Homo sapiens: one gene and its partners. The protein of the gene in region 5 purifies or fractionates together with the protein of the main gene of each other region. This does not show direct contact. Each region holds a gene or a part of one and is shown on either strand. Other genes may lie near its edges. The genes, in order: GPC1, ERMP1, ERGIC1, ATP12A, HS2ST1, HEATR1 and EPHX4.

Region 1 (3,992 bases), on a different chromosome or scaffold from region 5:
CCCCAGCTCGTGGTGGTCGCTGCCTGACTCGCAGGGCCTGCCAGCCCAGACGGCCCTCATTTTAATGATCTCGAGGGTCACAGGGAGGCAAGAATATCCTCACCCGCATGCCGCTGAGGAAACCAAGGCATGACTTGCCCAGGAGCCTGGAGGTGGGGGCAGTTCCCACCCAGGGCATGTGGGTCTGAGGCTGACGCCCTCCCTATGTCCCAGCTTAGCTGGGTCTGACACGTGCCCCGCAAGGGACCAAGGCATCCCCCTGGCCTGCGAGGCTCTGGGGCCCCACCCTGCCCGGCCCCCACGCATGTTGTTCTCTTCTGTCTCCTCTGCACTTTCACTCCACAGCCTGGCTCAGCGTCCAGCCCCAGCCCCTGGCCCTTCCCATCCTGGCCCATGATGGTTCTGGGCAGGGATGGGCCAGCCCAGAGCCGCCTGCCCAGAGCAAGGCTCACATCTGTGGGTACGCTGTTAGCAGGCCATGGGCAGCAGCCAATGCAGGAGGGACTGAGGCTGTGGGGCTGAGGTCAGAGGCTGGCCCAGAGGCCCAGGGGCACAGGGTTAAAGTAGGGGGAAGAGGAAGTCCCTTGGGCAGAGCATGGGGGTCTGGAGGGGTTTCTGAGAGCCCTGGGTGGCTGTGCGCACCTGAGCCACTTTCCGGACCACGTCGCTGGCCACGCCCAGGCCCTGCACAAAGGAGCGAGCAGCCACGAAGGCACGGGTGGCCCGCAGGCGCAGCTCTCTCGGGGCCTCCCCGAAGGGCCGCAGCGCCTCGGCCTGCTTGCCCAGGCAGTCCAGGTAGTCATCAGGCAGCAGCAGCTGGGGGTGCAGCTGCTTGAAGAGGCGCTCGAGCAGGCGGGCCCAGAACTCGGCCAGCGTCTCCTCCAGGTGCAGGTTGGCACCGCGGTAGTACAGGCGCAGCTCTGAGTACAGGTCCCGGAAGGCCCTCGCGTTCTGCGTGTACAGCTCTCCGAAGGCGCCGGGGAAGGTGGCCTGCAGCGTCCGCTCCGAGTCGTTCAGCAGGTGCTGGAAGTGGTCTGCGCACAGGGAGGGGGCGTGATCGGGACCATGTTTCCCCCGCCGTGGCAGCTGGACCAGAGCAGGGGACTCAGCCCGGGAGACTCAGCTCTGAGGATACACTCTGAGGACCTCGGAGTCGGACGCCACACTGCAGCGGCTGTGGGCCCTGTGGGCATCCATGGGGCGCCCCGAGACCTCACCCCCTGGCCTGGGGAGCAGGGGCCCAGGTGGCAGGGGGTCCTCTCGGGTCTCAGGGCCTCTGACTGGGGCTCCAGTGGCAGTTTCTGAGCTGAGCCCTGGGCAGAACAGATGCTCTGTGACTCAGTGACCCCCTGAGAACACCCAGGGAGGGGCTGCTGGTGGAGATGGGGACTCACTGGGGTAAGAGGGGCAGGGCCGGTCTGTGCCCCCCTGCCAGCCGCTCCTTCTCTCCACTGGTCCCCACTTGTGCTCCCCGTGGCCCCAGCCGCCTGCCCTGCGAGTCTCCAGGGCTGCTGCCCCTCCCGCCACCCTGTCTCGGCTGCTCTCCTAGGCTTCTTGTCTTCTCTCAGCTTCTGCGATTTAGAAGCTTCAGCTGTGAGCACCCCGGGCCTGTCTGAGGGCTCTGGGGGGCCTCCTGCAGCCTAGAACCCCAGACATCTCCCCTGCTGGGCAGGGGGTGTGGAGGCACAGGCTCACCCTCAGACCTCCACATGTGCTGCAGGGGCTTTAGGGAAAAGCCCCCGTACCCCGGGCCTAGATGGGACCCTGGACTTCCCCATCCCATTTGGAAGTGGGACTTCCAGGTCTGTAACTGCTCAGAGCGTCCCTAGGGCTGTGGCCGGCTTTGCCCCACAGGTACCGGGGGCTCGATGGCCCACCACAAGGTGCTCCAGGGTAGCAGGGCAGAGGCTCTCCTTTGAGGCACGGGGGCCGTCAAGCCTGAGATCTCTGGATCAGCCCCCACGCTGACCCCTGGCAAGGCCTGGGGCTTCAGGGCTGGCAGGGCTACAGAGAGCTCCCAGGCCGCTGTGGGGAGGGTGGACGGGCCACACAGCTGTCCAGTGTCCACCTTGGGTCCTGGCGCCTGGAACGCCCTGGCCTGTCCCGGAAAGGGGCGGCTTGTGGTTCATGCATTAGCCCAGACACACCTAGAGGGCCATGGGCCAAATCCAGGTGCAGTCCCCAGCTCTACCTCCTGCCAGAACCCATTCAGCTGCTCCTGAAGGCTGGTGGGGGGGCGGACACAGGGCTCCAAATCCCTGAACACAGCAACCAGAGGTCCAGCCAGGCTCCCCTCCTACCGCCTCCCACTGGTTCCCACCAGCACTGCAGACAAAGACCCAGGGGCCCTCAGCTGCCCCGGAGGCTGGGAGGGGACAGCAGCTGCCATGGGCAGGGGTGGGAGGGGAGGACATAGGAGGTGGGGGTTGGACAAGACTCCCTGGGGTAGGGGCACAGGTGGGCCTTGGGCACATCACATAGTGGGTCATTTTTAATACAAATGTCCCCAAAGGGTGTCTGTGTTTTCAGGTCAAAGATAGGAGAGTTGAACAGGAAGGCTGGAGGCTTCCAGAGGGCAGCAGAGGGAGGGCGGCGGCAGGGCACTGACACGGGACAGGCCCCAGAGCAGGGCAGCGACACCAACCCCCTAAGAGCCAGGAGGAAGCAGGCGGGCAGGATGTCCCCAGGCCAGGAGGATGGTGTGATGGGCAAGGGTATTAGCAGGAGAGGGGAAGGGGCAGGGCTGGGTGGCACGCTGGGGCGGGAGCCAGGGCTCAGCGGCGCTGGGGAGAAACTGAGGCCCAGGATAGAGTGGAGGAGGTGAGCCGGGTCCCTACACATGGGACAGAACCAAGTGGCTCAGGAAGGCTCCTGACTCAGGGTGCAGGGGCTCGCTCCCCGGGTCCAGCTGGGCAGGAGGAAGGAGAGTCCCAGAGGGGCCACGCGCATCCCACGGGCCCCACACCAGCGGGGAGGGCTGAGCTCTGAGCATCGATGTCCAAGTCACAGAGAGGGAGCTTCTGACCCACTGCTACCCAGGTGTACGCCAACAGCTGAGGTCCCACAGCCCTGTGGAAATGGCCTTGGGGGCTCCTGGGGACAGGCAGACTCTCCCGGGAGCCTGGGAGGCCACAGCAGGTGTCCAGGAGCCGGAGAAGCAGGAACGCTGAGACAAACCCCAGGGCCCCAGCAGCAGCTGCCGTCCCTCACAGCCACAATGGAGCCCTGCAGCCTCAGCGCTCCCTCCCTCCTGTCTGCCCAGGCTCACTGTCCCGGCGCCCTGGCTCCGCCCGGACACAGGGGCAGTACCTCAGCCCGGGCCGCCTCCCTCCACCAAGTCCTCGTGTTTCTGATCAGAGGTCACTTCATGGAGGACCTCCTGACCCCACACTGTCCCCCTGGGGGTGGCTGCCACTCTCTGCCCAGACACAAGGCGAGGCCCAGCCTGGGCCGAGGAGTACGTGGCTCTAATGCAGCAGCTGGCGGGGCCTCAAGGCCTGCAGGGGTCACTCCCCGCGGCCCCCAGACTCCTGCCCCGATATAAAGGGCTGAGTGGCGGCCACCCCAGGCAGGCCCTGCACTCTGCAGCCCTGTCCCCAGCCCCAGTCTCAGCCCTTGCACTGAGCTCCCTGGCTCCAGGCCACCTGGTCCCCAGGGGCAGTGGCCTGGGGCACTTGACGAGCTGCAGGCAGGATTTGGCCAAGGCCTGTCTCCCTGCAGGTGCTCAGGAGAATCTGCTGGTGACAGGAGCCTCTGAGGGGCTGATGGGATAGGCCCTCTGTCCCCAAATGTGCACTGGGAATGGGCTGTGCACACTCCCAGGGGGGTGTCAAACCCTGCAGATCCCTGCCTGAGGGCAGCCCCCAAATCCCAGCTGGGGCTTCAACCCAGCGCCCTAGCCCCAAAGCACTAACTCCCCCACCTCCTCCTGCCAATCCCCCACCCTTGGCATTGACACACCAGGCAAGGCCCAGTGTGCCCCTCCCCCGATG
Region 2 (3,992 bases), on a different chromosome or scaffold from region 5:
GTGGTTCATGCTTGTAATCCCAGCACTTTGGGAGGCCAAGGCAGGAGGACCACTTGAGCCCAGGAGTTTGAGACCAGCCTGGGAAACATAATGGGAGCCTGTCTCTACAAAAAAATTTTTAAATAGCCAGGCGTGATAGCAAGCACCTGCAGTCCCAGCAACTCAGGAAACTGAGACAGGAGAACCACTTGAACCCAGGAGGTCAAGGCTGCATGATGGCACCAGTGCACTCGAGCCTGGGTGACAGAGCATGGCTCTGTCTCTAAAAAAACAATAAAATAAAAATTATTCTGGCTGATTAAATATTACTAAATTTTTTTAACATTCCACTAAATCAATGATAAATTTAAACCTGTTACATACACTACAGGTAAATTTTCTCATTTTAACTCATGAAATGATTGACATTTAACAATATTTATATCATAACCACCCACAGTGGCTAAAAGTTCACTACCTATATAACAATCCAATTAGAGGTTAAGAACAAAGTTTCTGGACCCGGACTGTCTAGGTTCAAATCACACTCTGCCATTAAACAACTGTGAAACCTTAGGCAAGTTATAATCTCTCTGGACTCAGTTTCATCTCTAAAATGGAAGTAACAGTACTTATCTTACATGTTGTTTGGAGGATTCAATGACTTAATATATATGAAATGGTTTGAACAACACTTGGCATATAATAAGCACTATACAAGTGTTAGATGCTGCATTATTTGGTTCAAAATTTTTAACAAAGACAAGCTAACACCACCTCATGCTTTAAAAAGAATGCTCATTCAAGAGACTGTTTATTGAAGATATTATTTATAATCAAAAACTTTCTACTTTTACAAAAACTAGAATTGCATTAAAATATACAACGCACAATCTCACATACCTGTTTGGAATACAAGTTCTTTCCCTCCTACACCTGCTGCCTCTAGGTTAATGAATGCACGAATCAAGCTAGCCCAGGGGTGCTGAGTAATGAAACCATGACTGGCCTTAAAGAGAAGGAAAGAAAACAAATATTTGTTAAACAATCTTAAATTATCAGTCTTGATTTTGCTTAAACACAGAGAGACTACTTTGATGAGGTAAGGAATATGAAAACAAAATAATCGCTCTTCAAAGGCAGTATCCAAAGACATCTTCTGCTTCTTTTCCTATGCATAATGGCCATGCACATCAGGTTCGGAAAGTCACCTATCACAGAAGGCAGCCTGGTGACCATCAGCGGTGCCAAACAACATCCCTGGTAAGTACAAGGCTGTGCAAAAGAAAAGGCAAAGAGGGCCAGGCACGGTGGCTCACACCTGTAATCCCAAAACTTTGGGAGGCCATGGTGGGAAGATCACCCGAGCTCAGGAGTTCGAGACCAGCCTGGGCAACATAGCGAGACTCCCTCTTTTTTTGTTTGCTCATTTTTGAAACAGAGCCTGTGGCCCAGGCTGGAGTGCAATGGCTCGATCTCGGATCACCGCAATCTCCACGTTCCAGGTTCAAACGATTCTCCTGCCTCAACCTCCCGAATAGCTGGGATTACAGGCACCCACCACCACGCCTGGCTAATTTTTGTAATTTTAGTAGAGACGGGGTTTCACCATGTTGGCCAGGCTGGTCTCAAACTCCTGACCTCGTGATCTGCCTGCCTCGGCCTCCCAAAGTGCTGGGATTATAGGCATGAGCCAGCGTGCCTGGCCCCCTTCTCTTTTTAAAAAGAAAGAAAAAAAAGAGAACAGGAGAAGAGACGATCCATATGGCTGGGCATTTATTTGTGCCTGTCTCAAAACATCTCTGAAACTTCAATGTCAAAGAAAACCTGAGGAGAGTAATTATGCCAGCGAGAGCCCTTCTCTCAATCAAATCCTGCCACAATAATCTGCTAAGTGGAGTTTTCCAAATATTAAACATCTCTACATAAGTGGTTGTGAATTTGTTAAAGTACTGCTCATAAAGTATTTTTCTGCATATTATTTTATACTACCCACAGGAGTCATAAAAAATGCATTTACTATTTAGTAAATAATATTTAGCTATTATTATTAATCTCATCCTTATTCAAGCCTGATATTTAAAACAGTAAAATCTCACTTGCAAGACATTTTCCTCAGCACCATTAAAGAGAAATATGACAGCATGATGCAAGGCTTCTGAAGATGTTGACAAGACGCGAAGGACTTCCAGCATCACTGAGCAGCTAACTGCATCATCACTGGCACCTTCAAATCAGAAAAACAAATTTGCTGCTCAGATTTTAAAATGTTTACAATATGACCCATTAGGACTAGGAATGGAGCTTTCTCCTCAGAGAAGCATCACAATAGCTGCATGACCAGAAGCATAGCTCTGTCATCATCAGGTGACAATCACACCCACCAGCAGTAAGTTCCATGAAGGGATCTTTGTCTGGTTTGCTCACTGACTTACTCTCAATGCCTACTACCATGCCTGACCCACCAGAGTCACTCAATTAGTGTCTGCTAAATGAAGTAACCTGAGGGGACCTAAAGTCATACTGGAAACTGGTATTCTCAGCAAACCAAGGCAATCTGTTCTATTCTTTACCCGTATTCCACATCCTCTGTAATAGTCTCACTTCTGGTGCTCACAGCTTCCTGCATCATCTCCCACTGCACCCACTCCTTTCTTGCTTGTTTTCCTGCCAAAATCATAAAAGCTGCACAGAGAGGTCACTTTGGATGGTGTAACATTCCTTTAAGGCTTCTCCAAGGGGATTATGTGATGGAAAACTAAAAAGAAGATACCTAATCTAGTAAGTCACAGGAAAGGAGACTAATGACCTAAGTAGTATCCTAGGTCCCAGAACACACACTCAGTTGAATCTCTGAACCTCTTCTTGATTCAGAAATTTTGTATGTTAATTAAAAGTAACTATAAAGATGACTTAACTGTCTTGCTTTTTTAAAGCATTGTAAGAGACAATTAAAGGAATTGATTGGATATTTGATGATACCAAGGAATTACTGTTAGGTTTTTTTAGGTGAGGCAATTGGTGGTATCAAAAAGGGCCCTTATCTGCCAGCAACACAGAGTGAAATACTTTTAGAGAGGAACTGATATAGCTAAGATCTGCTTCAAAATAATCAAGAAGTTGGGAGGGTAGTGGTAGGAAAGAAACAAGATCAGACTGCTGAAGCTGGGAGATAAGTACACTGGGGTTCATTAAACAATTCTGCTTTTGAATATATTTGAAACTTTCCATATCAGAAAACTTAAAGAGTAATCAAAGTAAATAAGCACTAACGTAACTCAGGCAGTAACATTTCTGGGTTTACACATTTGAAGCAGGGTGCCAAAGAGTTTGGCGTGGATTTGAGAGCAAGAAAGATTTGGAAGTAAATTTGAGCTCTGTCACTTTACTCCACTATTTCCTGGTTGAAAGAGCAAGCTAATGATACCTACCTCACAGGTTTAAGAGTCACACAAGATAATGCCCAGTGCCTAGCACCTGGTAGGTATTCAATGTTCATTTTTCCCTCTCTTTGCAAATCTGAGGAAGGCTCTGTAGCTAGCTAAAATTAAAATGCTTGTTTGGGCTCTGTTAAATTCCAGACCCCATTCCTACTTAAGAAGAAATTACCTATTAACCATACTTGTCTTGGTGGTGATTACTGGTTTGTATTTCAATCGAAGTGAAACAAAGTAATAATCATTTAATTACTATCAAATAGAAAATGCTGCTATTAGCAAAATGTGTCACCTTCCAAAAACCTAATGAAATAAACTCTCTTTTTAATTTGACACTGTGAGTTACTTTAAAATAGAGAGCAAACAATAAAATGTTTCTTTATTCAAAAAGAGAGAAAGGGAAATTGAAAGGTATCTATACAGGGTTGATTAAAAAGTTAAACTGTCCATTCAGCTTCCCTTATTTTAATGGTTCTGGTGCGTTAAAAGAGAACTACAGAAGAGTCAAATATCTTTAAGAAAGGGAAGGAAAGTTAAGAGGACAGTATCTATAAGGGCTAGGTGGTTAGCTGACAT
Region 3 (3,992 bases), on a different chromosome or scaffold from region 5:
AGACAATTAGGCTAATTGCCACTTCCTTAAAGGATCAATTAGGGCTGTGTTTCCCAAACTGTGTTTTGAGAAATGGCACTAGCTGCTCCATAAACAACAGGGCATCTGAGACTATACATGTGGCAAATGTTGGGCTGAACCAAATAACTCTGGTTCGCTCAGTGCCGGACTCTTCAGAGTCCTCAGTGAGGCAGCCAGTGCGGCATGGAGGGACACAGACTGGAGGACACTGAGTCAAATCAATCATACAGACCAGGGCTTTATACATTTTAATGAATACATGAATCACCTGGGGATCTTGTTAAAATACAAATTCAGATTCCAGGTGGGCACTGAGATTCTCCACTTCCAACAAGCTCCAAGGTGCTGCTGAAGCTGGCATCTGGGACTGCACTTTGAAGAGCAAGGTTATTAGTAGAAAGTTACGGCCCCTTACTGTCCACTTCACTGGTGGGGTAACAGAGTTGCCGAAGGTCATGCAGGAGTGATGGGTGGGACGGGAACTCCACGCCCCAGCCTCCCGAGGCAAGGCTCTCCACCGCCACCCGACCTGGCTCCCCTGCTGCTCTCAGCCCTGCTTGCTATTGCTTCTCCCAATTCAGAGCACTTCTCCTCCGTCTTGGCTGTGCATTAGAATCACATGAGAGACTTTAATATACAGCCAGGGTTGAGGCTCACTGATTTAGATGTACCGGGTAAGCCTCACCCCAAATACCCTCTTCACACCCTGCCTGTCTCTCCCACGCCTGACAAAAACTGGCTAGGAGTAACTCCAAATAAAATACGAAAGGATTACCAGATGGGGAATGTAACTTAACCAGGACACAGCTGGCTAAAGCCCTGTCTCCTGCTACTACAGCACCACAGTCAGGAATCCAAACGGCCTTGGGAGGAGAGGACATTCCATCTCATTCCATGTCCCCGCGAGCAGGTAAACATGATGCTCTAAGCTGGAAAACCCCCACTGGTCAGCGTGGGAAAACTGAGCCCCTCGAGGGTGATGCCATTAGCTGGTGTGAGGGTCTTTAAAGACCATTTCAGAATCAGGTATCACGCTACATGAGGCTAGGGGGAAAAAAGTTGATGGCTTTAAGCTTCTTAATGAGCACTGTTGGGTGAGGATTAGTGAAGAGAAACCCAATGAATCCAATTAGAAGAGTTCTCAGTTCTCTCTGAATTTAGTGAATGGAAAAGAGAAAGCTTTAGAGATGAGCCTACAGGACACAGTGGAGCTCTGGTGCCAAATGGCAGTGTTCCAATCCCAGCTCCAGGAACGGGAACGACCGTGTTTCCGAACTCTGTGGCACCTCCACTGGCTCACCTGTAAAGTGGGGTAACAACAGCACCTCCCTTGTAGGACTGTGGAGAATTAAAGGGGCTGATACAGTAAGATCCTTACAACAGTGCCTGGCACTAGCAAATGTTCAATAAACCCGAAATACTGGCCTTTTCACATAATTTTCTCTCTGGTCTAATTTTTATTTTCTTTTTGCCCTGATTTTTAAGGCTATATGTGTATGTGTATGTGTGTGTATGTGTGTGTGTGTGTATGTGTGTGTGTGTTTTGAGATAGGGTCTTGCTCTGTTACCCAGTGTGGAATGCAATGGCATGAACATGGCTCACTGAAGCCTCCACCTCCTGGGCTCAAGAGATCCTTCCACCTCAGCCTCCCAAGAAGCTGGGACCACAGACGCACATCACCACACCTGGCCATTTTTTTTTCCCCATAGAGATGGGGTCTGGGGTCTTGCTATGTTGACCAGCTTGGTCTTGAACTCCTGCAATCCTCAAGCAATCCTCCCACTTTGGCCTCCCAAAGTACTGGGATTACAGGTGTGAGCTACCACACCTGGCCCATATATATATACTTTTTTTTTTTTTTTTTTTTGAGACAGAGTCTCGCTCTGTTGGCCAGGCTGGAGTACAGTGGCAAGATCTCAGTTCACTGCAACCTCCGTCTCCCGGGCTCAAGCAATTCTCCTGCCTCAGCCTCCCGAGGAGCTGGGATTACAGGTATGTACCATCAAGCCCGGCTGATTTTTGTATTTTTATTAGAGACGGGGTTTCACCATGTTGGCCAGGCTGGTCTCAAACTCCTGACCTCAGGTAATCCGCCCACCTCAGCCTCCCAAAGTGCTGGGATTACAGGCATGAGCCACAGCGCTCATTTTATATTTTTTAAAACTTGCTGTAAAGTATATGTTCTTGTCAGCTTCCTTGGAATTCTTTCTGGAAGAAACAGCAGGGTAGAAATACAGGCATTCATGTTAGCTACTCTCTGCTGAATGTTAACTCTGTGCTCAGAGGTCCCTGTGGTGGCTGAGGCTTAGCTTGGTGTAGGAACTGATGGGGCTACCAGGGTCCCATTCCCTATTGGGGCCTAAGGAATTAAGACTGGGCCAGGTGCAGTGGCTCATGCCTGTGATCTTAGCACTTTGGGAGGCCAAGGAAGGAGGATGACTTGAGGCCAGGAGTTCAAGAACAACCTGGCCAACATAGCAAGACCCCATCTCTATATAATTTTTTTTTAAAAAGGAATTCACACTGGATCCTTAGAGCAATGAGACCCATTTGAAGGTTGAAATCAGGACATGAAAATATCAGATCAACTTTGGAAAGCTCACTAGGGAGTCCTGAGGAGGTCTGGGGTATCCTGGAGGGAGAAAGACCACTCAGAAGGCCAGAGTGAAAAATGGTAGAGGCCAAACCAAGGCCCTGCAGCAGGGCCAGCCCCATCAGGGCCGCATGACCTGTGCAGGCACACAGGGTCACACACTCAGAGGGGGGTCCATGCTTGGCTGAATGCGCTGCTGCTGCCGTCCTGAAATTCTTAATACTTTTTCAACAAGGGACTCCACATTTTCATTTTGCACTGGGCCCCACAAATTATGGGCCTCATCCTGCATTGCAAGTTGCATTGCACATTGATCCTGCAAGTGTGCATTGATCACACTTGCCCCTACATCTACTCTACCAGGTGAGGCAGCGAAGTTTACATCCCCTCCTTAAAATGAAGAAATGGAGGCTCCGAGAGGGGAAGTCAATGGTCCCAGAGCACATCTGGTCAGTGCCAGTGCAGCGGCACCCCCGAGGCCTTGGGTTTTCAACATGGGGGCTGTCACTGTGGGACAGCAGCCACCTGCACCTCCCGGAAGGCAGTGCTCAGGCACCACTGGGCCTGGGCACAGGGCTTCCGGATGCTGTTATCTTCCCTCCTCACCCACCCTGGGCTGGTGTGCAGAAGGCAGCAGGTGCTACTGGCCCCAGGCCAGCCGGAACTCGAAACAACACACACGGATGTGGGTCACAAGGCTAGTTCCACAACTGCAACAGCCAGCCATTAGTGAAACAATTTAACAAGAGCAAAGCAAACACAATAAATCATTGAAAGCTCAGCCTCCCTCCCCTGCGTTCTGCCTCCTTCCTTAACCCCAAAAACAACCTAGGAACGGCAGATTCAAGGGTGGAGAGGGGAGATTTCTCCACTAATGGCTGAAAATCTGCCCACTGAAGCTGGCATATCAAGTCACGTCATGTCTATGGCTTCCTTGACAGATTTCAAGAGGCATCTCCAAGGATCGAGTTTGGCTCAAGCACAGTTCTAGGTGCTGGAGATGCAACCTTGAAGAAGCCTGATAAAAACTTCTTGCCCTCAGGAGCTCATGTACTAATGGGAGGGAGAGAGAAGCAGCATGATAATTAAGTGAATTATATAATGTGTTAGGAGATGATGGGTGCTTAAATAAAATGACACAAATAAATATGGCGGCCAAAATGGATGAGGCGCTTACTCTGTGTCTAAATGCTTTCCGCACTGCCTCATCCCTCAACTGTTCTACTTCGGTGAGTACTCTCCTCATTCCCATTTCACAGACAGGAAAACACAGAACTCAGTTGCACCAGGCTCTACAGGCAGTAAGAAAATCAGAAGTATCCGTAGGGAAGGGCAAGAGTGCACTATTTTTCCTGCTTCTGATTTTAAGAAGGGGAA
Region 4 (3,992 bases), on a different chromosome or scaffold from region 5:
GCAGTGACCAAGAGGAAGTGCAGTCCCTTTGTGACTTTTGACTGAGGCAAGAATCATAAAAGTCATTTCAATGCACCTTCCCACATTCGTAGGAAGATTATGTCTTTCTCTCGTTCCAAAGAGCTGAGACAGAAGCACATTCTGGAGTCTGCTACAAGCACAGTTCCATCCATGCCCATCTGAAAGGATGAGGAAGTTGAGGTTGCACAAAGACACTATACGGGCCAGCAAATTGGCAAAGCAGTCCAGGTTTATAGGAAGAAATGTGCCACCTATACTGAACAGGAGCACAGGAGGAGGCTAAGGGCAGGACCGTCGTGTGCACGTCACCAGCACATGGCCATCACCAGGCTAAAACTAGACAAAGACCACAAAAGATCCTTGAATGGAAGGCCAAACAAATCTTCCTAAGTAGGGAAGGAAGGGCAAATATAAAAAAGAAGCAATTGAGAAGATGCAGGAATAAGGTATCTTATATACAACTTTCATTAAAAATTGCTAAAATGGGCCAGGCGCAGTGGCTTACGCCTGTAATCTCTACACTCTGGGAAGCCAAGGCGAGCAGAACCCTTGCAGTCAGGAGTTAAAGACCAGCCTGGCCAACATCGTGAAACCCCGTCTCTACTAAAAGTACAAAAACTAGCCGGGTGTGGTGGCACATGCCTGTAACCCCAGCTACTCAGGAGGCTGAGGCAGGAGAATTGCTTGAACCCAGGAGGTGGAGGCTGCAATGAGATTTCACCACTGCACTCCACACTCCAGCCTAGGCAACAGAGAAAGACTCCATCTCAAAAAAAAAAAAATCTGCTAAAATTTTAAATTAAAGTCCCAGCTACTTGGGAGGCTGAGAGGGGAGGATCCCTTGAACCCAGGAGGTGGAGGCTGCAATGAGATTTCACCACTGCACTCCACACTCCAGCCTAGGCAACAGAGAAAGACTCCATCTCAAAAAAAAAAAAATCTGCTAAAATGAAGCTGGGTGCAGTGACACAAGCCTGTAGTCCCAGCTACTTGGGAGGCTGAGAGGGGAGGATCCCTTGAACCCAGGAGGTCGAGGCTGCAGTGAGCTATGATCACACCATTGCACTCCAGCCTGGGTGATCTGACAGGACACCTTGTATCTAAAAAAAGAAGACTCGGCTGGTCTGAAGGTAGTAGTGAATTAGCTCAACTGATTGTTCACAGTCAGTTACAGATCAAACTTCTACTCTTTCCCCTCTTCTCACTACTGCACTTGACTACTCTTAAAAAAATTTCTTTTAGTCCAGGTGTGGTGGCTCACGCCTGTAAGCCCAGCACTTTGGGAGGCTAAGGTGGGTGGATCACTTGAGGTCAGGAGTTTGAGACCAGCCTGGCCAACATGGCAAAGCCCCGTCTCTACTAAAAATACAAAATTAGCCAGGCATGGTGGCGGGCGCCTGTAATCCCAGCTATTCAGGAGGCTGAGGCAGGAGAATCGCTTGAACCCAGGAGGTGGAGATTGCAGTGAGCTGAGATCACACCACTGCATTACAGCGTGGGTGACAGAGAGAGACTCTGTCTAAATAAACAAACAAACAAACAAACAAAATTTGTTTAAAATTCTAAAGTGAAAAAAAGTATAATCCGATTATCTTACAAAACCAAACAAATAAACAAGCCCCAAAGTTGTTTTCATAGAGGGATGTTATGTATACTAAAGGGCACTGCAAGACTCTTAGACTTCAGGTACTGCTGCTGTGCCCAGAGGCGGGAACCCTGGTTGGTTGTCTAACGTGGTAATTTGTTATGACCTGACAGCTGTGTGTCCCTAAAAGACCTAAGTGCTTGGGGAAACTGAAGAGGTGCATTGGTCTTTCCCTCATCTCCCGCATGCGTGAAAACATAACCCAGCTAATGAACATTACTTCTCAACCTGAGAATTCGGAGTCTTTGACTCATGGAGACCAGGCACAGTCCAGGCCACTCTCCTGCATGCCCAGCTCCCTAGCCTTGTGTGGCTCCCTCATTACACTGGCCACATCATTGTTAGCTTTGTTTGTGTCTCCTTGGCTCGATGGAAAGATTCCCCAACGGTGTGGATAGTATTGTTCAGTTTGCTACTGTAGTTCCAGGTCTTGCCTGGTATATAGTTGGCACGCAGTAAATACTTGTTGAAAGAACAAATACATGAGTGAATGTACAGTTGGATGAACATGATTAAAAGAATAAGGATAAACATGATTAAAAGAATTAGGAGAAACAAGGAAAAAAACTTTCCTTAGGAAGCTTCCATTCTATCTATTACCAAATAAAAAAGAAGGGTGTGTTTACATAGCTACACGTTATGAAACCGGGTGGATAAATACCCAAGATGCTTACCAAGGAGGGTGCATGAAACAACCCACAGGGTTCTTACGATTCCAAATTATGCAACTGCATCTATGGCAAGTAATTTCACATAAACCCTTTGTTTCAGTTTTTCTTATTCTAAATTGGGCACATAGGTTTTGTGCCCAGGGCACACTGGATTTTGAAATTTCAAACAAGGAACACATAAAGGGTCATTTCATGGTATCAATACTGTGCCTGGCACATATTAGCTGCTCAGTGAAATTAGAGTGAATACATGGATATGCAAATAATAGCTCAAACAAGCCTAGCATAACTCTGAGAGCAAAAAGCTGATTTGTTCCAAGTAGTGCAGCTCTTTAGAGCCAGTGGGGCCCCATGGGTATAAACTGGAATTTTTACTATGCTGCTCCTGTGCTTACCGTTTGTTAACTTGCTCCACAGCAATGTTGAGGCGATGTGCAATGTCTTCCACTGTTTCACTGTTGGCTGAAATGATCCCCACACTCTTGGCAATAGCTTTGGCTGTGATGGGATGATCACCAGTAACCATAATAACCTAGAGCAAAGACAACGAGAAGGCCCACGGGTAATGAAGAACTCGGTTGGCCAAAGTGGGGATGGTTCAGTAATACCTACTCTGTAGTGCCCTGGGAGAACGTGGTTGGTGATTACAGTGGCAGCTCTGGATCTACGAGACAACTGTCTTTGGAGGAAACACTAATCCCATTGGGTCTACCCTTGCTCCTAAGCTTCATACGCTTCCTCCTCTGACATGAAAGGAAGCCCTTCCCCTTTGATGCCACTTTATTTGTGAAAGGGCTGGTGAGTGTCTACTTGGGGGTAGCCCCATGTTACTTCAACAGTCTTAATATTAACCTAGTAATGATGAACATGGATTATGGGGGCTGAGCCTCAAGACTGAGTAATAAAGCCTTTTTTCTTTCTTTTTTTCTTTTCTTTTCTTTCTTTCTTTTTTTTTTTTTTTTTTTGAGACAGAGTTTCACTCTTGTTGCCCAAGCTGGAGTGCAATGGTGTGATCTCGGCTCACTGCAACCTCTGCCTCCTGGATTCAAGAGATTCTCCTGCCTCAGCCTCCCGAGTAGCTGGGATTACAGGTGTGTGCCACCACATCTGGCTAATTTTTTTGTATTTTTAGTAGAAACGGGGTTTCACCATGTTGGCCATGGCTGGTCTGGAACTCCTGACCTCAGATGATCCGCCTGCCTCAGCTTCCCAAAGTGCTGGGATTTCAGGCATGAGCCACTGCGCCCAGCCAATAAAGCCTTTTAGTATCTACCATGGACTAGGGCGAGATATGGTCACTTCAAGGCACTAGGAGATTCTTCTCATTGCATTTACTGTTTATGTGGTTCATTCCACATAGACACAATCATTTTCTTTTTGTGGGACAGTTTCAGTAACCTTAGCACAGTGAAACTAGAAATAAAATAGGAATTATGATATTTACTTGAAGACACCTAAATACTGACCATCTGCTATGAAAACCATTATTAGAAAGGAACACGACATAAAGAAAGAACTTCTTGAGTCAGGAAAATAACTCCCACCTTGATCCCTGCACTCCGGCATTTGGTGACTGCATCTGGCACGGTGGACCGAGGGGGATCGATCATTGACAAGAGTCCCACAAAACAGAGGTTGGAGGTCGGAAAGTTCAT
Region 5 (3,992 bases):
ATACTGTTGCATCGGAGATTAAGTTTCCAACATGTGAATTTTGGGGGAGACATTAACACCACAGCAGTAGGTTTCAGAGCAAAGAATATTACCAAGGATAAAGATGGTATCTTGTATAAAAAAAAGGGTTGGTCCATCAAGAAGACATGACAGCCTAAATGTGCATATACTTAATCACAGCACTTCAAAATACATGAAGCAAAAAGTGACATAACTACAAGAAAAACAGACAAATCCACAATTATCAAAGATTTCAAAACCCCTCTCCATAACTGATGAAGAGGCAGAAAAAAATCAAGAATACAAAACACCATAACAATACTACCAACCGACATCTACAGCATACTTCAGCCAATAACAACAGAATACATATTTTTCACGTTCACCTGGAACATTTACCAAGATAGTTTTTTTTTATTTGTAATTGACAAAACTGTATATATTTATCATGTACAACATGTTTTAAAACATGTATATATCATGGATGGCTAAATCAAGCTAATTAAGACAACATGCATTACCTCACATACTTTTTTTTTTGGTATGGTGAAAACACTTAAAATCCACTCTCTTAGCAATTTTCAAGAATACATTGTGACAGGAGAATGAGGGAAAGCTTCGGGAACCATGTCTTTAGGTAAGTGAGGCAACAGAATCAGGTGCACAAATGACCGAACAGGAGCACTGACAGTTACCATCTATTGTTAACAGGCAGAAAGGCAGAATACGTAAGTACAGGTACTGGTAGGTGGGTAGATCTTAAAAATAACTAGGCTATAGTGAACCATGATTATGAAGTTCATCTATAAGTACATCCTTCAAAAATGGTCTTCTGGAGAGCAATCTTTGAACATTCATTATTATTTCAATTTCTCTAAGTGCCAAAAAGCTATTAGAAGGCCTACCAGAGTGGTGGACAGACATCCTGGAATTATCTTAATTGAGATCAACTATTTCAGGTGACTACTCCATGGCACTAGACATCCTATTCAAGACTAAGTGAGGCACCAATTACCAATTCTAGAATAACTGTATTCCTATTAACCCAAAGTCCTCAAAACAGTAGCTACTATGAGGTTTTCCAAATGATTTCAGAAGTGAGGAAATCTAGCATTCTCTGGAACATCTTACAGGTATTGCTGCATGGTTTCAGGAACTTACTTGTAAAAACTACCAAATTCCAAAAAGCAGTCTCAACCTTGGCCCTGGAATTAGTTGTTTAGTCTAGTAGAGTTTTAAGAACATAATGACTAACATTAATTCTCACCAATGGATGATTACATAATCCATTCTCAATTATTTTCCCCATGTAAAAGATTATTCCTAATGTGCTCATAAATCCATATAGAGATGTAAGAATACAGTCAACAAATATTATTTACAATGCTAAAACCCTATAGAAAATAAAGTTACCAAGCACATAGTTCTATCACTTATGTGAGAAAATATTTCACTGCACTGTTCGACCAGTCAATATTAGCAACAAGTGCGCTCTTGAAATTCGGGAAGAACTACTTTTTACCAGCCACAAATTCTGACATTTTATAGTAACGAGTCACAGTTAAATAGTTTTCATTTGGATTCCCTGTCCTTTTCCATTTCTCACTAGAAAATTAAGTCTACATTTTAATACAATGAAGTATTAACTTCATTTGAAGTTGAAAAACTTCTCTTTTTCACAGGTAATAAGCTTATCTCCTAAATTTAACTCACAATCTGCACGTTATGTTACTAAAAACAAAAAAAAGTCCACTAAATATGAAACATCTACTATAAATCTGTGATCCTTGCCATTAAAGGAATCACATACTCCTTTGCAAATCTGATGAAAGTTATGTATATAATTTCAGGGAATTCACTGATACCTTGAAGCCTATTTATGGGTCCCCGAGGTTTAAAGAATCTCTGATTAATGGAAAATAGCATCCAAAATTGATCCAAGAACATATGAAAACTTAGTATGTGATTAAAAGAAGGAATGTTAACATACAGTTGGAAAAAATGATTTACTGAGAAAATCATGATAAATCTCTGTAAACATACAAATGGTTTAAAGAGCCAAATGTAATAAACTATAAAATACTATAATAAAATACAGAAAATGTACACAATCCTGGCTCTGGGTAAGTCTTCCTAAGCAAAATATGAAAACGACTTCCCTAAATTGATAGATTTAACTGTGTGTATTTTAAAACTTCTATATGAGCAAAACACACCATAAAGTCAAGAAACAAATGGCAAACTTGGACAAAAACAAATAAGAGGCCGGGTGCAGTGGCTCATGCCTGTAATCCCAGCATTTTGGAAGGCAGAGGGGGGCAGATCACTTGAGGTCAGGAGTTCAAGACCAGCCTGGCCAACATGGTGAAACCCTGTCTCTACTAAAAATACAAAAATTACCTGGGCGTGGTGGCACGTACCTGCAATCCCCGCTACTTGGGAGGCTGAGGCAGGAGTGAGCCGAAATCGTGCCACTGCACTCCAGCCTGGGTGACAGCAAGGCTCATCTCAAAAAAATAAATAAATAAATAAATAAATAAAAATAAAAAAAATTTAAAAAAGACATAGGATAGATAAAGGATTACTAATTCTAATATTTAAAAAAAAAAGTAAACCACCCAATAGAAAAATAGAAAAAAGTAACAAATAAAAGGGCAATAAACATGTAAAGATGTTCAACCTACCTAGAAATTAGAAGGTAAATTAATTGAATATATCATTTCACAGCTTCACACTGGCAAAAATTAAAAGCTGATTATCTTCTAGTGCTAATGAATGTGTGCTGGCAGTGTAGATTACTACATCTTTTGAAAAACAAAAAAATGTTGAAAAGTAGATTTTTAAATCTGTTAAATTATAAAATATGTATATTCTTTGTCCCAGCAATCTCACATACAGAATTCATCCTAGCACAAAATGACATCAACATGAGTTAAACGGACACATAAGGATGTTTCCTATAATTGTTTATAATACCAAGAAAGAAAAGAAACACTCAAAAAAATTATATATATATGTATATATACACACGCACACACACGACAGATGGGGGACAAACTGAATGTCCGTTACTAGAATAATGGCTTAATAATTTATGATACATGCATACTTTGGAATATTATACAGCTATTATTAATAGAATGAGTAAGTCACATCTATATGTACTGACCTGGAAAGATGTGTATAACATTCAAGGCAAAAAAAGCAAGCCGCATTGTAATATGTGGACTACAATGCCATATTTGTTTTTTAAAAAATAAAAATAAAAAGCTGTATTACTGAATTTTTTTTTTTAGGAATTCCTAATTAGTGAATTTCCCAAGTAGTCAATGAGTACACCTCAGTTTTGAATACATCTATTGCTCTATTAGAAGTCTCACCATCAAAATACTGTACTCTCAAATCAAGGTATATTAAAGCCACTATCAGACAATACTATCCTTTGGAATCTTCTACAATGAAAATGATAATAACTACTTTTAAGGACAAAATGTTTAATAGGTTTTTTATGCCAAAATAAAAATGCTTTTTTAACATTGTGATTTTGCACGTATGGAAAACAGCTAGATTTTTCTTTCCTATAGTAAAAATAAGCTATCTAATTCAGTTGTTTCATTGGGTAACATAATTATGTTCATTACATGAATCTAAACAAGGGGCAGACGTTACATTAAACCAATTCCTTTGTATCAGAAATTCAATTTTCTCTGAATGATATTCATTCTTAGCAATAAATGCAATTAAACACTGATATTACAATTTTAAAACTCTATTCAAATACCTAAATCTCAGCGTAATGTCAATATAAAGTCTTAAGCAGCCGGACATAATTAAAGGAGCACTTGATTTGGAATCATACATACCTGGGTTGCAATCCTGGCTCTGCCACTTAAATGCGATGTGGTCTTGGGCAAGTTATATAACCTCTCTAAGCCTGTTCCTGCATCTGCAAAAATGGCTTTCTGTTGTTCTTTGGTTTTTTTTTTTTTGAG
Region 6 (3,992 bases), about 150 Mb from region 5:
ACTGACTTGAGACAAGCTCTAACTTTTTAAACATTAGTTCACATGCGTTTATTCACTTCATTATGTTCATTAAGCTTTCATCTTAGAATACCAGTTTCACCATTTGGGAGCTGTTTGTAATATGTGCAACCTTATAAATAGTGTTTTCCAAACTGTGTCCCAGGACTGCAAATCTTTAATGTGAAATGTCTTTTTATAATCTCTTCCTTTAAAAAAAACCAATAAAATAAAATGCCGCATGCAAACTCAAGTGTGTCACCAGATTTTACTTCATTGGCGCTCGCCAGCCCGCCAGGCTGGCAATAAAGTGCCTCCAGCCACCTCTGGCAGGTCTCCTCACCCACAGCCCCTGACTGGTCACCACTATAATTGTATGAGGGGCCAGGACAGTCGCTTGGGATAAACTCCCATCTCAGCACTGAATAAAAAACATTCTGTGTCACAATATCCTAGTTTTGGGGCTTTAAAAACGTCTAGGTGTTCCTCACATGCCTTGTCTATAATAAGGAAAGCAAGCAGTAGTTGGGTATTGTTAGCTTTTGAAACAAAAGCCCTACTGGTCTTCTAATTTTGGATATTTTAATTAAAGAATATCTGGACAGTACAAAGTGAATTATTAAAAAACCATTTGTAACTACCTAGATTCAATCAGGATTTCCTTGATTTGTGCAAAGTAAAATATTACAATAAATTTGATACTGCTACTTGTATAAAAACCTATGGTTTAAAATGTGGGGGTTCATCATAATAGTCTCATTGTTAGCATATCCTAATAAAGAATTTGAACTAATAAATCCTATTAATAAAATTCTGCTTTGGTCTGTTATAGCCAGTAAAGTTCTAATACAATCATTAGTTTGAGAAATGGTGACTCATTGCTAAAACAGTTTGAAATTCGTAACACTTGGGTGTCAAATTTTGACTTCCACTCAACCTACCCATGTTTTATTTCCACTGCCACCACTTACTCAACAAGATCATAAGCCTAGTATCTATAAACAACAGAATGTATTGCTCTAACTCAAAAGACTATAGTGTGGATAAATTCAATGCATTTCTCTCTGGAGCACAATGACATTTCAATGGCACTTAAAAAAGAAGGAATTACTTCAAATCTTTGTTATTTAAAAGTATTTAGAAAGTATTTTAGTACTTCTGCCCAACGCACCATTGGGGTGGGGATAGGGCATTGCTATTCTTTACAAATAGCCTGTAAGTAAAAAACAAAATTTTCTTAGGCACAAATTTCTGCCTAATACAAAAGACCGGACCTCTAGTACTGGATGACAAATAGCAATGTTCTTCCCTGCCAGTTTACTAGGGGGCCTACATCTGTGACCACCTGCAGGCTGTTTAGGCTATGCAGTGAAAAGATGCAGTTTCAGTACTTGTCACGCAGTTCCTAACCTTAGGCGAGGAGTCTCTCGTCTTTAGCAGAATCTGGTAGTTCAGTGGTTTCCAAAGAGAGTCATCCGCCATGGCCACCGAAAACTGTGCGATGCATGGTATCAGGTGCTTTGTCACCCGTTCCTGGAATTTCTCTTCTCCCCCAAGCCTGTTTTCCAGCTAGGAAGAGTAAGACAAAGACTTTGAACAACAAGTCTCATTTCTTTCTTCTGTTTGAAAAAATATCCAACATACAAATATTTTACTATCTTTCATGATATTAGCAGGTTCAAAAACCAGGCATTATTCTAATACTCTCTAGGGCAAATGTATTGCCTTCTAGAACTCAAATGGAATCTCATACCCTTTATCATCGCCCCTTTCTCTCCAGCAGAACATCTCAGAGGAGCTCTTTGCTCCAGAGGACAGCCATGCTCTGACGCGTTCTCAGTGAGGCCCAGTTAAAACAAATGAATACATTAACCATGACAGCTTATATCATGTCTGTCTTTTGAGCAGTTTAAAAAATAAAAAATAAAAAATAACTCAGGGCCAGGCATGGTGGCTCACGCCTGTAATCCCAGCAGTTTGGGAGGCCAAGGTGGGTGGATCACTTGAGGTCAGGAGTTCGAGACCAGCCTGGCCAACATGGCAAAACCTCATCCCTACTAAAAATACAAAAATTAGCCAGGTGTGGAGGCGGGCGCCTGTGATCCCAGCTATTCGGGAGGCTGAGGCACAAGAATTGCTTGAAACCGGGAGGTGGAGGTTGCAGCGAGCCGAGATTGCACCACTGCACTCCAGCCTGGGTGACAGAGCAAGACCCTGTCTCAAAACAACAAAACAAAACTCAAATTCCACAATGAAGTTATATCTTTGAAAAAACAATTTTCAAATAAAACATTTCATTAAAAAGACCAGAAAAAACAACCTTACAAAGAAAAATCCTAGCAAGCTGTCATTTGAGCAGATCTAAAACCTGCCAAGCTCGAACAGTGATGGCTTCCTCAGCAACGAAAGATGATTCTGTTTGGTTACCTGATCCACCAGAGGCATCATCAAGGCTTCTGCTCTCTCTTTACTTATAAAATGCTGGGTATCAAAAAGGAAGATTTTGTATAAACAGTTCAAAATAAACTGCAACAGCAAGCAGCACTTTTCAGGGTCATTTTCAGAGTCAAAAAATGCTTCATCTGTAGACGTGGGAAGAGTAAAAATGAAAAAACACTGAACTTAACCATTTAATCTCCAATGTTTACATTGAAATCACTATTAAAATAACTAAATCAGAAGAGTCTAAAATGATCTAGAAATCATAATCAGGACGAAGGCAGAACACAATGGATGGTCTCTCGAAGAATGATTCCTTCTTTTAGAGTTAAGATTCTAACACTCACTCTGGCAAGTTAAATTCCCTCAACTGTCAAGTGGGTCACGTATTAGCATTAGAGAATAAACTAATCTTAATTTTTGCGTTTTAAAGTTACTTCCAGTAACTGACAGTAACGGCCATTTACTTTATTCTTTCTCCCAAGTGAGGTGACTTATAACATTCGCTCATGATGCTAAAACAACACTTCACTGTCTGACAACAATGAAGTAAAAAATTCACCCTCCTTAGCTTAGGACTTAAGAACCTCTAAAATCTTGCTTCCAAGCACTAGGTTGTGTCTTACTGGTACCTTGTATAAGGCACACAGGGCAAGGGTGACAGCTGAACTGAAGCGACCACCCACCTGTTTTGGAGATGTTCACCTGGTTCAAGGTGTCAGCAAAAGGCTTCACTAAGTGGCCGGCAAACAGAGTAAAAAGCCCTTTCAGCTTTTCAGCAATGCAATCTGCCAAGTTGTAAAATGTCAACAACCTGTCCTTTGGGGCATCTTCTGTTTTAGCCCAATCAAACAGCTGAAAGGATAAGACAGTATTAGTTTCTTCGACATCTTGTCACTTAAATCTGAGCACAAAAGAGAGGAAGAGGAAGAAAGCGTCACCTTGAAGAACAGGGGCCTGAATGTGACCTCGGAAAGTTTGACAACCATGGCTACTAGACAGTCAATGATACAATTTTCCGTTTTTCCAACTTCCTCCAGATCGTTCTGAAAACAGAAGAGCCCATTTATTAGAGTGCTGATACCTGACTGTAAATTATTTTGGCAAGTACCACTGTTACACGGCTAGATTGTTCTCGGACTCTTCAATAGGTGGATAACAGCTTTAGGATTTGGAGGAGTGAACCTGAGCTTACCTCAGAGTGCTGGGCTCGGAAGTCCAGGGCTTCCAGGAAAAAGGCGGTTAGCTGAGACTGATGGGAGGTGAGCTCTTCCTTCTTCATCACCCCAATATGCTCTTGCAAGATGCTCATAAACGGACCCATGTGATTCTACCAATAACACAGGAAAGAGATGTGCCATTTTCAAATGATTCCTAGAGTTCAGCGGTGTGTATTTTTAAAAACTAAATCTTCTTCTTTAAGTCAAAGTTTACACATTGCAGTACCACCTCTCCCTTCTCCAAAGTCTTAATACCCAATAAGATCTAACCTTCCAGTTCTTCTCAATCTGCTTGTAAGTTTTTTTGATGGCGGGCAACAGGACTCGGGGTGCAAG
Region 7 (4,636 bases), 5.1 Mb from region 5:
AAACAGGACATTTTAAAAAATACATAACAAATGGCAAAATACAACATATCAACACATATGTAATACGATTAAAGAGTACTGAGAGATGCCAGGCGCGGTGGCTCACACTTGTAATCCCAGCACTTAGGGAGGCTGAGGCGGGCGGTTCACGAGCTAACCTGGCTAACACGGTGAAACCCCGTCTCTACCAAAAATACAAAAAACTTAGCCGGGCATGGTGGCGGGCGCCTGTAGTCCCAGCTACTCAGGAGGCTGAGGCAGGAAAATGGCGTGAACCCGGGAGGCGGAGCTTGCAGTGAGCTGAGATGGAGATCGCGCCATTGCACTCCAGTCTAGGCGACAGAGTGAGACTCCGTCTCAAAAAATAAAATAAAAAGAGTACTGAGAGAAATGTATAGGTGCTAAATGATTGCATTAGAAATTGCAAAGGTCTCAATAAGTTCCTAACTCAAGACCCTAGAAAAAAAGAGCAAAATACAGTTAACCCTCAAACAACATGTGTTTGAACTGTGTAGGTCCACTTACACATGGATTTTCTTCCACCTCTTCCCTCCCCCTCACCCCAAGACAGGAAGATCAACCTCCCTTCTTCTTTCTCCTCCTCAGCTTACCTAACCTGATGATGACAAGGATGAACACTCTTAAGATAATCCACTTCCACTTAATGAATAGTAAATGTATTTTCTCTTCCTTATGATTTTAACATTTTTCTTAATTATAAAGATACAGTATGTAATACATAAACATATGTTAATTGTTTTGGTCAGTAGTAGGCTATTAGTACTTAAGTTTGGGGGAACTCAAAAGTTATACATGGATTTTCAGATGTGAAAGGGTTCAGCAACCCTAACCCCCCGCATTGTTCAAAGGTCAATTGTATAACTCACACATGCTGAAGTAAATTCAAAATTGTACAGCCACTTTGGAAACCAGTTTGACAGTTTCTCATAAAAAATGAACACTTAATACCTGACCCGGTGATTGGGAAAAGGCTTAATGAAATTCTAACAGTGAACTGGACGATAGAAGAGGTCAGGACAAGAGTGGCCATGTCGGTGCTGAGGCTGAGATACCTACCGAGGACTGTCACTCTCACGGCTTCCAGCCCTTCGACGAACTCTCAGGTGTGTGGCCTTCTGGCCAGGCTTCTGCCGCGTCACGTTGTTGAAGCATTCGTTGTATCCCTGGGGTTGCAGCTCTCTGTAAGTTTGCTGTGGCTGAACCAGGCAAGGCATAGGCGGATTTCTACAGAAATTATGATTCCACGAAAGATTTTGAGAAGAGGAAGGCTGGTATCTTTCAGAGTGCAGAGTGATTTTGCACTCTAAAGAATCTCTTTGGGTGTAATAGCATGGAAGTTTGTCGCTGACCTGTGTCCCTGAACTATGACACACGAATATGTGGGCTTAGAAATAGTTTTGCTTGATACATTGAGAACAACAAAGAAGACTGAGTGGCGCTACCTTCTTTGGTGCCCAGGATGGTTTGGGAAAGTCTCGCCTTCATCCTCCCCCACAGTTTTGCGATTTTGAAACGGGATCTCGCTCTCCGCGGAAGACAGCCAAGCTCTGCACCCCGGCCTGGCCCGCCGCACCCCGCAGGCCCGGCTCTCCCCTGCGCGCTCCGGGCTGGGCGCGGCGCGTGTGCGGAGCCGCCGCGGTGACACGGAACGCCGGCCGCCCCGGGCCGGGGGAGGCGCGCGTCGAGAGGCGACGGCGGGCTGGCCTGGCGCGCTGCGGCGCTCGCTCACCCGCTCCCGAGGAAGGGCAGTGGGCCCCGCCGCCGCCTCCCAATGGCGAGGCTGCGGGATTGCCTGCCCCGCCTGATGCTCACGCTCCGGTCCCTGCTCTTCTGGTCCCTGGTCTACTGCTACTGCGGGCTCTGCGCCTCCATCCACCTGCTCAAACTTTTGTGGAGCCTCGGCAAGGGGCCGGCGCAGACCTTCCGGCGGCCCGCCCGGGAGCACCCTCCCGCGTGCCTGAGCGACCCCTCCTTGGGCACCCACTGCTACGTGCGGATCAAGGTGAAGGGCCGCGCGGGCCTGGCGGGAGCGGGAGGGAGCGTGACCGCCGCGAGGGTGGGGGGCTCCGGGCTTCTCCTTCCGAGACGCTGGCTCAGCGTCCCCTAGTGTCCTGGCAGGAGGGGAGGAGGGGTTGGGTCCCTGTGTGTCGTGTGTGTGTGTGTGTGTGTGTGTGTGTGAGAGAGAGAGAGAGAGAGAGAGATACAGATAAACAGCACTCGGTCTTTGCAGGCACCTTGATTGGTTTCTGAATGTGGAACTTCTCTAATCAGGGGCCTCTTATATTACTGCCCCCCGGCGCCACAACAACCCAGAATAAACCTGCTCTTTTTCCTACTGCAAGGGGAAGCTGTCTCCTGTCACCCTTTTGCCCTTTAGAGCTCAGATCAGCTGTAGAGAATTGTTCCTCGTGGCATCCTAATGTCTCAGGAGGCTGTTCTTGCCCAATTTTAGAGATAATAAGAGTAAACAGTCAGTCTTTGGGAGTCATGAGTTTATTATGATCACAGACGACTTAGGTTGCATGAAACAATAAGTAAATTGTGTGTGTTGTGGGGAGGAATGCATACTTATGAAGTCAGGGACCAAAGAAAGGAATGGAATAAAAGGTAAATCCAGCCATGCCTGCAGACGCTAATTGTTCAAGCTTCCTCACAGCCCACAAATATTCTGTTTCCTGAGGCTCCAGGTGGTGAAGGGAAATAGTTCCCGTGATACACCCTGCAGTCTGACTCACAGGCCTTTCAAACCCAGCCTCATAAGAGGGGATGTTTATGTCACCAAGTCCTTATTTCCTGTTAGGAGCTAAATTGCCCCGCAGCTGAAGTTCAGAAGGGCAAGAGAACTTCTTTCTTGCCTGGGGTCGACATGAGAATTAAATAGGTTAATATTTATAAAAACAAACACGAAAAACTTAGAACAATGCCTGATGCATAGTCAGTGCAATAAAGTATCTGTTAATTAAATCCATTGCAGTGCCCATAACATTTAATCCTCCAAGACTCACCACCAATAAAAAAAGTTATTGAACCTCTAGGAAGCCATCGTGCAGCTGAGGGTAAAGTCAGATTTGTTATCTCTGTTCAACCTGAGGGGTAAAAGTAGTATAAGAACCATCTGGAATTCCATAAAACACTTTTCCCCTCGCTCTGGCCGCCTAAAGAGCTTCCCCAGAGACAGAGAACCGAGTGGAAAGAGCATTGTCCTGGGAGTTAGGACAAGATGGAGATTCTGGTCACAGCCCTGCTCTCAACCATTTTATGACTCATGTTACCATCTTTGGGCCTCATCTTCTGAATCTGCAAAATGATTCTTTCACATCTGAAAACTCAGTTGCTTGAGTTGCCTGCTATAAAAACCCAATGTCTGTGTTTAGCTTTTGGTTCTTTTTGTTTCCTAGCTTGCTTGCTTTCAGAGATTTTTATTCCTGCTGTTCCCTCTACTTTCCTCAATTCAGCCTGCTTAGTATTTGCTTGAATTCCTGACTCATTCCCATGTTTTTTTAATTTTCCTTGGGTTTTCTTGTCTCCTACATGCAGAGTGAAGTCTTGAGCACTCAGGGCATTCTCTTATTAGAAACGCACACTGACATGACATGAGCAGGCAGCAAGGGGAACAGAACATGCAACACTCAAAATAATAATGTGGGAAGGAGAGACCTAAAAATAAGAGAAGGAGGTGTGAATTATATAACTGATGGCACAGCTCTTGACGGGCAAGCTGAGAAAAGTAGATGACTAGGATGTAAACATGGCAGAAATATAAATTCAGATTAGAATTATTTACATGTCCTGCAGCATTTGAGGGAGATGAAATGTGACACATCAGTAAGATGAAAGTTACAAATGGTAAGATGAAAGTTACAAATTGTGACATTGCTTCAGAAGCTCATAATATATAAATTGACTGTACTAGAACAAGAAGAGAAGGTACTGTCAAGGGAGTGTTGACAAAGTGAATCTGTCAATTTACCCTATTAATAGGTCATGGGGTTTGCTTTTCTTTTTGAAAATTAATAAAAGTAAATATATTTCTTGATGTTAAAAATAAGGCAACTGAGTGTCATGAAGATATTGTAAATACACAAATGTTTTAAAATAAGGCAAGTTACTATTTTTTTAATGAAATGGAAATGCTAAATATATTGCTTTGTCAATCAACACAAACATCACTAAAATTCCATGCCCTCTACTTTCAGGATTCAGGGTTAAGATTTCACTATGTTGCTGCTGGAGAAAGAGGCAAACCACTTATGCTGCTGCTTCATGGATTTCCAGAATTCTGGTAAGCTTACCAACTAACATTTATTGTTACATTAAAACTTGGCTTATTTTCTCAGTTCATTTTGTGCTGCTGTAACAGAATATCACAGTCTGGGTAACTTAAAATGAACATAAATGATTTTCTCAGAGTTCTGGAGGCTGGGAAGTTCAGGATCAAGGTGCCAACATCTGACAAGGGCCTCCTTGCTGCAACATCACATGGCAGAGGAGGAAGGGCAAAGAAGCAAAAGGGGGCCGAAATTGCCCTTTCATAGTGGCATTATTTCCATCCATGAGGGCAGAGCCTGCATGACCTAACCACCTCTTAAAGGTCCCACCTCTTAATACTGTTACA

What was found.
Region 1: the proteins of HS2ST1 (region 5) and GPC1 purify together in Homo sapiens (co-immunoprecipitation; one large-scale study listed by IntAct). This does not show direct contact.
Region 2: the proteins of HS2ST1 (region 5) and ERMP1 purify together in Homo sapiens (affinity purification with mass spectrometry; one large-scale study listed by BioGRID and IntAct). This does not show direct contact.
Region 3: the proteins of HS2ST1 (region 5) and ERGIC1 purify together in Homo sapiens (affinity purification with mass spectrometry; one large-scale study listed by BioGRID and IntAct). This does not show direct contact.
Region 4: the proteins of HS2ST1 (region 5) and ATP12A purify together in Homo sapiens (affinity purification with mass spectrometry; 3 studies listed by BioGRID and IntAct, with this or other methods). This does not show direct contact.
Region 6: the proteins of HS2ST1 (region 5) and HEATR1 purify together in Homo sapiens (affinity purification with mass spectrometry; one large-scale study listed by BioGRID and IntAct). This does not show direct contact.
Region 7: the proteins of HS2ST1 (region 5) and EPHX4 purify together in Homo sapiens (affinity purification with mass spectrometry; one large-scale study listed by BioGRID and IntAct). This does not show direct contact.

What each region holds. Positions count from the first base shown.
Region 1 is NC_000002.12:240,459,233-240,463,224, reverse strand, and holds part of GPC1 (glypican-1 precursor), read right to left. Parts: intron 1,035-3,992; coding exon 643-1,034; intron 1-642. UniProt on the Homo sapiens protein: Cell surface proteoglycan that bears heparan sulfate. Binds, via the heparan sulfate side chains, alpha-4 (V) collagen and participates in Schwann cell myelination.
Region 2 is NC_000009.12:5,823,014-5,827,005, forward strand, and holds part of ERMP1 (endoplasmic reticulum metallopeptidase 1), read right to left. Parts: intron 2,207-3,992; coding exon 2,079-2,206; intron 989-2,078; coding exon 883-988; intron 1-882. UniProt on the Homo sapiens protein: Within the ovary, required for the organization of somatic cells and oocytes into discrete follicular structures.
Region 3 is NC_000005.10:172,837,138-172,841,129, reverse strand, and holds part of ERGIC1 (endoplasmic reticulum-Golgi intermediate compartment protein 1), read right to left. Parts: intron 3,781-3,992; exon of another isoform or gene 3,557-3,780; intron 932-3,556; exon of another isoform or gene 260-931; intron 1-259. UniProt on the Homo sapiens protein: Possible role in transport between endoplasmic reticulum and Golgi.
Region 4 is NC_000013.11:24,700,812-24,704,803, reverse strand, and holds part of ATP12A (potassium-transporting ATPase alpha chain 2), read right to left. Parts: coding exon 3,882-3,992; intron 2,870-3,881; coding exon 2,733-2,869; intron 1-2,732. UniProt on the Homo sapiens protein: The catalytic subunit of a H(+)/K(+) ATPase and/or Na(+)/K(+) ATPase pump which transports K(+) ions in exchange for Na(+) and/or H(+) ions across the apical membrane of epithelial cells.
Region 5 is NC_000001.11:86,917,516-86,921,507, reverse strand, and holds part of HS2ST1 (heparan sulfate 2-O-sulfotransferase 1), read right to left. Parts: intron 1-3,992. UniProt on the Homo sapiens protein: Catalyzes the transfer of a sulfo group from 3'-phospho-5'-adenylyl sulfate (PAPS) to the 2-OH position of iduronic acid (IdoA) or glucuronic acid (GlcA) within the heparan sulfate (HS) chain and participates in HS biosynthesis.
Region 6 is NC_000001.11:236,552,174-236,556,165, forward strand, and holds part of HEATR1 (HEAT repeat-containing protein 1), read right to left. Parts: coding exon 3,927-3,992; intron 3,767-3,926; coding exon 3,632-3,766; intron 3,483-3,631; coding exon 3,378-3,482; intron 3,292-3,377; coding exon 3,123-3,291; intron 2,580-3,122; coding exon 2,425-2,579; intron 1,567-2,424; coding exon 1,408-1,566; intron 809-1,407; exon of another isoform or gene 1-808. UniProt on the Homo sapiens protein: Ribosome biogenesis factor; required for recruitment of Myc to nucleoli. Involved in nucleolar processing of pre-18S ribosomal RNA. Required for optimal pre-ribosomal RNA transcription by RNA polymerase I.
Region 7 is NC_000001.11:92,028,288-92,032,923, forward strand, and holds the start of EPHX4 (epoxide hydrolase 4), read left to right. Parts: upstream 1-1,697; 5' UTR 1,698-1,792; coding exon 1,793-2,023; exon of another isoform or gene 2,024-2,100; intron 2,101-4,217; coding exon 4,218-4,303; intron 4,304-4,636.